2 separate regions of the Homo sapiens genome follow, and region 1 is linked to region 2. The links come from fine-mapping of genetic effects on gene expression. A gene starts in region 2. The other region holds a variant in brackets. All regions are shown on one strand. Distances are between the middles of the regions.

The links. PIP is the estimated chance that this variant, and not a neighbour inherited with it, causes the effect. A credible set is the group of variants that fine-mapping cannot tell apart.
Region 1: its variant is the best candidate, but not a certain one, in a credible set for the expression of GLMN in testis (GTEx, PIP 0.80).

What each region holds. Positions count from the first base shown.
Region 1 is chr1:92,064,290-92,069,674 of GRCh38, forward strand. It overlaps the pseudogene LPCAT2BP. Among named protein-coding and RNA genes, the nearest start is that of SETSIP, 8.4 kb to the right of the region's middle. The variant TAACAG/T (reference allele first, on the strand shown) is at 3,256.
Region 2 is chr1:92,296,529-92,301,913 of GRCh38, forward strand. It overlaps GLMN (glomulin, FKBP associated protein), which reads right to left and starts at 2,459. Exons shown (of 19, transcript NM_053274.3): 1 at 2,397-2,459; 2 at 1,433-1,501; 3 at 876-1,001. The coding sequence starts at 1,471. RPAP2 (RNA polymerase II associated protein 2) reads left to right here and starts at 2,531. Exons shown (of 13, transcript NM_024813.3): 1 at 2,531-2,618; 2 at 3,666-3,711; 3 at 4,948-5,062. The coding sequence starts at 2,546. RefSeq lists enhancers at 1,557-2,453, 2,025-2,494, 2,715-2,944 and a silencer at 1,956-2,293.

The DNA.
Region 1 (5,385 bases), 230 kb before region 2:
TGATACATATTCAAGTCTAGACTAAGGGCCTGGCATATTGTAGGCACTCAAACATTTGCTTAATGAATAAATAATATATCTGGCACACTGCTAGGCACTGCGGGGGGGTGGGGAATATAAAAGAAAGATAAGGTGGTAACATAGAACTTTCCCATAAGAAGCCTTAAGGGCTGGGTGTGGTGGCTCATGCTTGTAATTCCAGCACTTTGGGAGGCTGAGATGGGTGGATCACCTGAGGTCAGGAGTTCGAGACCAGCCTGGCCAACATGGTGAAACCTCATCTCTACCAAAAATACAAAAATTAGCCGGGGATGGTGGCAAATGCCTGTAATCCCAGCTACTTGGGAGGCTGAGGCAGGAGAATTGCTTGAACCTGGGAGGCAGAGGTTGCAGTGAGCCAAGATTGCACCACTGCATTCCAGCCTGGGCAACAAGAGCAAAAAAAAAAAAAAAAAAAAAAAAAAAAAAAAAAAAAAAGACGCATACATAGAATGCAGTCAAATTAAATAAAGGTTCAAGAGTAGAAATGAACATTATAAGTAAGAGTTGAAAAGAGTTACAGAATAGAGAACAATACCAACTCAGGGGACTACTACTCATTCTTTTGGGTTGTTCCCCTTTAACATGGGAGGCAACCAGTAACACTGCCAAATCACATCACAGAACAAATAAGCCCTAAATTGGTGAAAGGATTGCTTCCCTCATTAAGCATAGTTCTGATCGTGACAGAACAAAGGAGAATGTCCCTAAGAATTCTCATTACTGTATCACAGCAAGTTGTATTTACAACAAAAATCCAATTCTCTATACAACACATTGCTTCGTAACAACATGCAAGGTAGGTATCACCAATTTATAAATAGTAAAAATGTGATTTAACGTGTAACTTTGCCAATGCCCATAGTGTAAGTTCTGGAGCTAGGATCTGACCTAGAGCCATCTGGTGGTAAAGCCCATGATCCCACTTACACCAGATACCATTTAGCAGACTTGTGGTATCCACGCCACTCTTCCTGTTTCAGCAGTAATCTGGTGTGTTTCAATAGATGGCCATATCTCTCAGGAACCTACAATTTGACTTTTAATTTTGGGAGGGAAAAGGAATTCAAATTAGCCATTAGTAAACATAGGAATATTCTATAGAGCATTGTCAGAGTTGCAAATGCCACAAGGTATAGAAAAATCCTGGTTCATACCAACTTGTTGCTTCCCTCTTGATCCCTCCAGAAGGGCAGCAACAAGGGAAAGAATGGGACGTGTTGACACAGTAAAGTAATCCTGACTTATTTTAATAAAAACCTGTTACTGACAAAGGTGATTTTAAGATTTGTTGTTGTTGCTACTTATGTCAGTTTAGGAAGCTGACAAGTTCATGTGGACTAATTTTAAGAATTTATCAATCAAACATTCCATGGGCAATTCCGGCCTATTACAATGAATGTACTCTAATTTTTAATAGATATGGAAAAGTACTTGTAACAGATATAAAGCCTCAAGGGTGCCATCTTGAGTTAAACCTCTTAGGATAAACAGTTATTACTATCTCTGTAGAAATCTATTGGTAGGGCAAGTAAGTGAATTTGATTTACTAGCTGCCAAAGCAGCTCACAGTAAATAAAAACAGGTAATGGCACCTAAATTAAAAGTTGTAATTATTAATAATATTCATCTATTCAAATTAATATATCCCTAGTAGTATATAATATATGCCTAATTTAACATCAGAAATTGCTATGTGAAAATAATTTATTAGGCATATGTCAAAAGCAAGATGTTTGCAAAAAAAGAAAGAAAGAATGTGCTGTTGATATGATTCAAATTCTCCTGTTACATCATTTACCATCTTTGATTTTTCTGATTTTAAAGGTAATGCAGCATTTTCTATTAACCTACAATTTCCTCTAACAGTTCTAATTATGTGCAAACAGAAAAAGCAGTTGGATGTGGGGAAGGGTGCATGTCAAAGGCTGCCCCCAAATCCAGGCTACACACAGCCTGGGTCTGCTAAGTCGGTTTCACGGCTCTGCATCCACAGACTCTGAGTTGGAGGCGAAGGAGTCTGGGATCACGCAGGAGCTAATCAAGTCCTTGTATCCTCAGCAGACACGCCTCTGTGCATGGTGCTGGACCTGCATCATCCTCGTGGGTACGAATGTCCTGCATCGCCTTCCTCTTCATCTGGCCAGTGGCCATGCTTTCCACCTTTGGCTATCCTGCTCAAATCCTGCAACCCTGCCAAGAGTTGGAGAAAAAAAACTGGTGAAACCAGTACTCAAGCTCATGCTTCAGGTGGCTTTCTTTTTACTTGGGTTCCTGGCTAAAGTGAAAGGGAAAAAGGCAACCCAAGACAAGGCCCCTATCTTCGTTACAGCACCACGGTCCACTTTCTTTGACTCAATCCCCTGTGTGGTGGCAGGGTTACCCTCAGTGGTCTCTGCAAGTCAAAATGTGCAGATCCCATTGGCTGGGAAATTCCTACTGTCAACACAGCTGGTGCTTGTGATTTGAGAAGACTCCCATTCCAGGAAGAATACTAAGGATGAAATCCTGAAGTGAGTGACATTTGGAAAGAAGTGGCCACAGATTCTGATTTTCCTAGAAGGTGTGTGCATCAATCGCTCCCGTCTAGTCACTTTTAAACCAGGGGCCTTCTGTCCAGGTGTTCCTGTGTAGCCAGTGCTGCTCAGGTACCCAAACACCCTGGACATGGCAATCTGGACCTGGCAGGGATTCACAGCCTTACAGGCCTGTATGTTGACACTCAGTCAACTCTTCACCAGGGTAGAAGTTGAGTTTATGCCTGTTTATATCCCAAATGATGAAGAAAAAAAAGACCCCATCCTTTTTGCCAATACAGCACACATCAACATGGCAAATGCTCTAGGGGTGCCTGGGACAGGGCACACTTACGAAGGCTGCAGAGTGATGATCTCCGCAGGTAACCTTCAACTACCCGTAGAAGCTGGTTTGGTGGAATTTACAAACATTAGCCAGAAGTTGAAGTTAGACAGGGATAACATTCATCAGCATTTGGATGAATATGCTGCAATTGCAGTTGCCTCAAAAGGAGGGAAGACAGGAATTGAAGAATTTTCAAGTTATTTAAAACTCCCAATTTCAGAGCCCTTGAGACAACCCCCTGCCCACTTCGGCAGGAATAATGATGGCAACATAGACTTCAGAGAGTATGTAATAGGTCTGAAAAGAGTCTGCAAATGTCCTTTAAGCTTTTTGATCTTGATGCGGATGGTTTAA[TAACAG/T]AACAGGAGTTCGCTGCTATACTTTAGGCAGCTTTTGGAGTGCCAGATCTTGATGTTTCCAGGCTCTTCAGGAAATAGCTGGACAGAAATCAGTGTACATTTCATATGAGAGATTTAAGAAATTTGCCCTGAAGCATCCAGCATATCCCAACTTATTTAATTCACACCTAGACCTCCAGGCAGCCTATATATATTCATTACCCCAAAAAGTACAGTTTTAATCACTGTATTCAAATGTTACAAGTTAGCCCTGAAAACAGTGAAAGTATCTTCTAGGTAGAAATGATGATTGAAGTAAGAATTACTCTTTGAGGAAAAACTCAATAGTTTTCACTCTAAGAGGCATAGACAATTATGATATTTAAAATATGCTTGAGGAATATTTCAGTTAGATTTAATAGTATCTATTTTTCTTCTTTCTTAAGATAGCATTTGTTTTAATGTGACCTAAATGTAGAAGAACAAGTGATCTAGTCATAAACCTTGTTCACCCAGCAGGGTTCTAGTTAGTGCCTTTATTGTATTTAATGCTAAAATAAGGCCAGAGGAACATTAAAGCCTATCACCTGTCCCTCACTGTTGCAGAAAAAAATATCACATTAAGAGCTACACTTGGGCAAGCATGGTGGCTCACGCCTATAATTCCAACACTTTGGGAGGCTGAGGTGGAAGAATCGCTTGAGACCAGGAGTTTGAGACCAGCCCAGGCAACATGGCAAAACCCCACCTCTAAACAAAATACAAAATTAGCCTAGTGTGGTGGCGTGCACCTGTAGTCCCAGCTACGCAGGAGGCTGAGATGGGAGGATCACTTGAGCCCGGGGGGCAGATGTTGCAGTGAACAGATATTGCACCACTGTATCAGCTTGAGCGACAGAGATCCTATCTCAAAAAAGAAGAAAAAAAAAAAAAAGAGCTACACTGACAGTAAATAAAAACATTAAATTACCATTTGCATTTCCTCCAAAAAAAGAAAAGAGCTATATAAATACCTCTTTAGTCATTTGAAAAGTAGCCTCAATTTTCTTATTTTTCTTATTTATTATTATTATTTTTGAAGCAGAGTTTCTTTCTTGTTGCCCAGGCTGGAGTGTAATGGTGCAGTCTTGGCTCACTGCATCCTCTGCCTCCCAGGTTCGAGGGATTCTCCTGCCTCAGCTTCCCAAGACTCCTGGGATTACAGGCATGAGCCACCACACCCGGCTAATTTTATATTTTTAGTAGAGACGGGATTTCTCCATGTTGGTCGGGTTGGTCTTGAACTCCCGACCTCAGGTGATCCACCCTCCTCGGCCTCCCAAAGTGCTGGGATTACAGGCGTGAGCCACCGTGCCTGGCCACATTTTCTTATTTTTCAAGATAAAATAAATATTAGGAAGATATAGTGTGGGGAATACATTGCAACAATTATATATGGTATGCCTGTTCCCTGCTTGCCTTTTTAAAGTATAGAAGTGATTATTTAGAATGAGAAATCACAACAGATTAAAATTTCTGAAAACCTGTAAAAATATCATAAACATAGGTCATAAATATAGGAATTTTGACAAATTTCATTCTGTATGACTTTAATCAAAACACAAAAAAATGTGTTTATAATTAACATGTTCTGCATTACTGAAAATATTATTTTTGTTCCAATAAGGCATCAATGAGAATTGAAGCCTCTACTTATTTACACATTTATTTCCAATACCTGTCACTATGTGACATCTTCACATAGTGATGTGACCCTTGGGCCCTACCCCTTCATGTCACCATGCAGGATGAATCAGCAAAGTATTCCTGGAAACCATTCCCATACCCAGACAGGGAGCAACAACCTATCTAGACATAGAAGTGAATGTGAACTGATAAACATACTCCACCAGCCCTAATCACTGAATCCCCTACTTAGTTTCACTGTGACTGAATCTTAAAGATGGTTGTAGCTACTCAGTAGCACCAGATATGAGGTAACATTTGACCAAAGTTTGCCAACTTTACAAAAACATAACCAAGTAAACACATTTTTAGGGATGCTACTAGAACCCTAGAAGGGGCTTATGGAAGTGGGGCACCTAAAGCTTTAACTTCGTCAGTTTCCTGATACTTTCAGAAGGTAGAAAGAAAGAAGAGAAGAATG
Region 2 (5,385 bases):
ATGATTCAATCACCTCCACCTGGTCCCATCCTTGACACACAGGGATTATTACAATTCAAGGTGAGATCTGGGTGGGGACACAGAGCCAAACCATAGCCGTCTTCCTTATAAGGAGTATCCAAAGACACAAAATTTGGCAGGATGTTGCCAACACAGTGTCCCAGGAAAAAGTTATTCCTGATCCACAAATAAGATCCTTTTCCATTGTGGAGGATGATTTCTCAAACCATTGTAACTGGATGATACTGGCTAGTATAATGACATATCGTTTTCCTCCTGTTCTGATTCTATGCACATAAAATACTGTTTTAATTAAAATTTGGTTTTCCATACACATTTGGCTGGAGGAGAATGGGCTGATCACCCAAAATGAATATTTAGCCTGCTTGATATGTATATTTCTCATTGTAAATTAATGACTCAAACACCATTTTTGGACTCCCTAAACCAGAAGTAATTCTGTTTCTTCTAAAAACTCTTTACTTCAACTATAGCAATTATTTATTTTGCCTCATTATTGTTAGTTGTTTACATGTTTATGTTTGACCAGATGGTAAAAACCTTCAAGTATATGACTGTTTCTTTTCTTTTTTTTTTTTTTTTTTCTGAGACAGGGTCTTACTCTGTTGCCCAGGCTGGTCTCAAACTCCTGGGCTCAAGTGATCTGCCTGCCTTGGCCTCCCATAACGCTGTGATTACGAACGTGAGCCACTGCGCCTGGCCTAAATATTTCTAATTCTTTTTTTGTTTTCAGTTCCCTACTGTGAAAATTTAAGTAGATTCTTAAATGTTTGATGGATAAATGACTGGATGAATAGCATCATGTGATTATTCTCTTCCCAAGACTGAAAAGTAAACACCAAGATTGTACGCACCTTATTCTTTTCATTTTGAATAATTTCTAATAGCTGGTCTGTGTGCCCTTCTTCTATGCATCTTTGCCCAGCTAACTGAAATAGGCCAAAATCCTCTTCTTTAAAGTCTTGCTCTTCTAGGATTTGCTGGCAAAAAAAAAAAAAACCCAAAAAACAAACAAAAAAAAGTATATGCAAATAAAAATTAAATACAATAACTTCTTGATTTATCTATGAAAAAAGGAAATCTGTTTAAATTCTAGATAAATGTAACGTAAATAACACACGTATCAAAATTAGGATTACCCTAATAAATACTTTAATAAGTGACCTTGAAATCTACTGTACCAGTGAAATCTATGAAAAGGATCAGGATTAAAATGTAAAAGGTTATTTAGATAAGTATGTCACCTGGAGAAATAATCCAATCTGCCTCCCCCACTCATGCTCTTTACAGGTCAAAAAAAGCAAGGATTAAAGAAGATAAACAATTTGAGTGACCACAAATATAATTAAAAACAATCTGTGCCCTTCCCATATTTTGAAAGGTATTTAATTTTACAAAAATTAATACTTACACATCTCTTTATTATAGACTGAAGTTCCTCTACAGCCATTCTTATTTCTCCTAGTTTCGATGCTAAAATCTACAAATACAAAACACACTGTTAACTATCCGTGATATTACACTTAAGTATTCAAAAGTTATGTTTCAGTGTGATAAATTATTAGTAAATACAATAAAGAAAATGGAAAGTTTTTGTTGTTGTGTTTTTTGGTCCAATAGCATGCTAGGAGAAAATGTAAAGTTTTAAAGTTGAAATGTTATTACTGAATCTTAGTATGTTTGCCTAAGAAAATAAAGTGTTTTTTTAGAAGCCCTTATTGCATGTTTTAAGTTTTCTAGGAGCATAGTTTTGAAAGCTACTTTGAAGGAAAAAAAAACAAAAAAAACCTCTCGAGCACTCCCAAGAGGCGAGGCATATACGAACTAAAGGGCTTTTAAAAAGCAAAGCACTTCTTTTCTGAAAAAAAATTTCCAAAAGGTGGACCTGAAATCAAAATTCTAATCATCAGGGGATTTTTCATTTTTAATGTCTCACCTCACAAAAATTGGGGTGCAACACAAGCTTATCTATAGGGGGTGAAGATTCAGATGCCCTCCATTCCATTTCTCTCTAGGAGTTGCAGTCCCCAAAGTGATCAATCCAGCTAGTGAAATCACTGTATCACACGGAGACAAGACAACGGCGGCCTTCAGGAGGAGACCATCGCTTCTCCTGGCGGCAAGGCTCGGCCCCAAGCCCTCAGTAGGGGCGCGAGTCAGCCCGGTCCTCAGGGCAGCGCGCTGGAAGGCGAGTGAACACCCCAGCGCGCGTGCGGGCTGCATCAGAGGAAGCCATGTCTTCCGATTCCTGCTCGCCTAGGTGGGCAGGCTCCACCACCTCGCGTGGCCTAGTCGGCCCGCAGCACCAAGTCCGCCGCGGCTCACGGCCAACCGCGAGCCCTGGCCACCCTGAACCTCTCCACAACTCCACTTACCGGCCAGAACCCTCGCCTCTCCCAGCCGCCGCCACCTCCTCCGGCGTCTTAGCCCGCTCTTCTGGCCCCGCCCCGCGCTACGCGTAGGGAGGCGGGGCCTCGGGGCGAGACGCCGGAGCGTGTCCCCGTCCGGCAGACTACTCTCCCCCATGGCGGACTTCGCTGGGCCGTCTTCTGCCGGCCGCAAGGCCGGGGCTCCCCGCTGCTCTCGAAAAGCCGCAGGTAGGAGCAAGGATCTCTTCCCACTTTTGGACCCTGAAAGCTGGGCCCCGATCTCGAGTTATAGACCGCAGCGCGCGGGCGCTCCTGAAAGGCTGCTTCAGGGGAGGGGTTCTCCCAGGTAGAGTAGGCCGAAAGCTTCCCACCGCCGTCCGCACCTCCTGGGAAAGATTTCCTGGCCGCCCCTCACCCCTTTACGCCAGTGTTCCAAGATTTCCCTCACGCGGACTGTGGCCCCAGCCTCTGAGACAAAGGACAGTGGAGGCCCCGGGAACCCAGGCCTGGGGTCCCCGGGTTTCGGGGCAAGTGACTAGGGCAGCGTTGGCAGCTGGCCTTGAACCTAGGACCGGTCCTCCTTTCCAGATTGCTTGGGTGCCCAGTTCTTTAAGGTGCCGGACTCCCCTCTTCCCCCAGAGAGGACGTTTGGCAGACGGAGAGAGGTTTCCCCTAAAAGTACCCAGATCTCAGATTTTCAGGAGTGGTTAATTAAGCAACTATGATACAGAAGAAAATTCAATCCCCAAAGAGATACATTTTAACCAAGAAAAATTAGACAGTAATCAATTTGCAAAAACAAATTGCTCTCCCTTCCTATTTCATTTTGATTTACACACGATTGGACATAAAATATGTGGAAAAGAAGAAAAGGTGGTCTACAGTTTGTTATTTGTGTAGGAATCTATCTTGTACCTAATGTGTTTGTGTAGACCTGACCTACTGCCACCATGTGTAGCTTAACTGCGGGGATGCATTTTGAGAAATAAGTTGTTAGTCGATTTCATCCTTGTGTGACCATCATCGAGTGCACTTACACAAACCTAGATGGTACAGCCTACTTACACACTAGGCTATATGGTACAGCCTATTGCTCCCAGGCTACAAACCTGCACAGCATGTTACTGTACTAAGTACTGTAGGCAACTGTATATCTAAACATAGAAAAGGTACAGTAAAAATACAGTATTTTAATCTTATGAGACCGCTGTCTGTATGCTGTCCGTCGTTTACGGAAATGTCATTATGTAGCACATGACTGTATTTTTATTGTAGGTACTAAACAGACAAGTACTTTGAAACAAGAAGATGCTTCTAAAAGGTATGACAGCTACATGGACAACTACATTGGCATATCTACTTATCTTGTATTACTTGTACCAATTTTAAAACAATAATGGTTACCTTTTTTTTTTTAGAGAAAATTATCATGAGAGGGAAGGGAAAGATCTGGGAAGGCCTATAAATTCTCACATAGACTGTTACATTCCTCTACTCCAGGCTTTAAGAAAACCAAACTAAGCACTCAGACTGCTAGTGAAGGAATGAGTGTCTGTAGAAGGTGTTTGTTTTTCACCGCTTCAGGTACACTCTCCTTTTATTGCTTTATATGCCAGAGACTCACTCTCCAAGTTTCGCTGTCACTCCAAGAAACCTTTTCTGTTCTTTGTTACATCAAGTCCAGATTTTCATTAAAAAGCTGTCTTGTACTAGTTCTGGTTCTAAAAAGGCAAGATATTACCACATATCACACAGAGTTTCTAGAAGAGGAGTAGAATGTGAAGGGGATTAAAAGCATATGTAGCTATGATTTTTATTTTGTGAAGACTCACTAATCTTATATTGGCTTTGGTCTTAATTTACTCATTCTTTCAAAAATTATTTATTGAGTATAAGATATGTCGGACCTGTGTTAGGCTCTGAAGATATGGTGAACAGAATAGACACAGTTCTTGCCTAGTGGAACAGAGGAATAAATAATAATAAATTAATTAGTTAATTAACATAAACAAATACATAATTACAAATTGTGATAAGCACTATGAAGGAAAAGACTGTGATGTTACGAGAAGGAATAACGAAGTCTAATTTAGTTGGAGGTGGGTGGCAGGGAGGTTGGCTGTGAGTTTTCAGCGAAAGCCTTATGCTGAGACCTGCGTGCTAAGTAGACATTAACCATACAAAGAGTATATAAAGACTTATGTATGTGCAGTGCAAAAAGTAGCTTGTTTCCTTTTTGAAAAGTATTGGATCAAAAGTAACAGCATTAGAAAACAGAAATTTGGCCGGATGTGGTGGCTTATGCCGGTGATCCCAGCACTTTGGGAGGCTGAGGTGGGAGTGTTGCTTGAGGCCAGGAGCTCGAGACCAGTTTGAGCAACATAGTGAGACCTTGTCTCTACAATTAAAAAGAAATAAATATTTTTATTCAAAAAATTTTTTAAATATATTTAAATTTAAGTGGCAAAATAGTGAGTTAGGTTAGTATTGTATTTTAAAACATGGAATGTTGGACATGAAGCTTTTAAGTAGATTAAGTTTCTCTTTCAAATTTTAGGAAAGCTGAACTAGAAGCAGCTGTGAGAAAGAAGATTGAATTTGAGAGAAAAGCTCTACATATTGTTGAACAGCTTTTAGAGGAGAATATTACAGAAGAGTTCCTAATGGAGTGTGTATGTGTTAAGTTGACAAATTATTAGTTTTGTAGTATAACATCTTTAAATCTGTGCAGCATGAAACTTCTTTGCATTATTAGAATCTTTGAATTTGTTCTGAGTCATTAGATGCAGATAACAATCCATATAATTCATGCATTTAAAAATAAACAACTATCATGCATTCCTTGTATAATGACTTTAAAATGCACTAATGAAAAATAAGTACGTAACAAGGTGATGACACGTAATGTATATTTCAAAATTAATAAGAGTGGATTTCAAATGTTCTCACCACAAAGAAATGATAAATATGTGAGGTGATAGATATGTTAATTAGC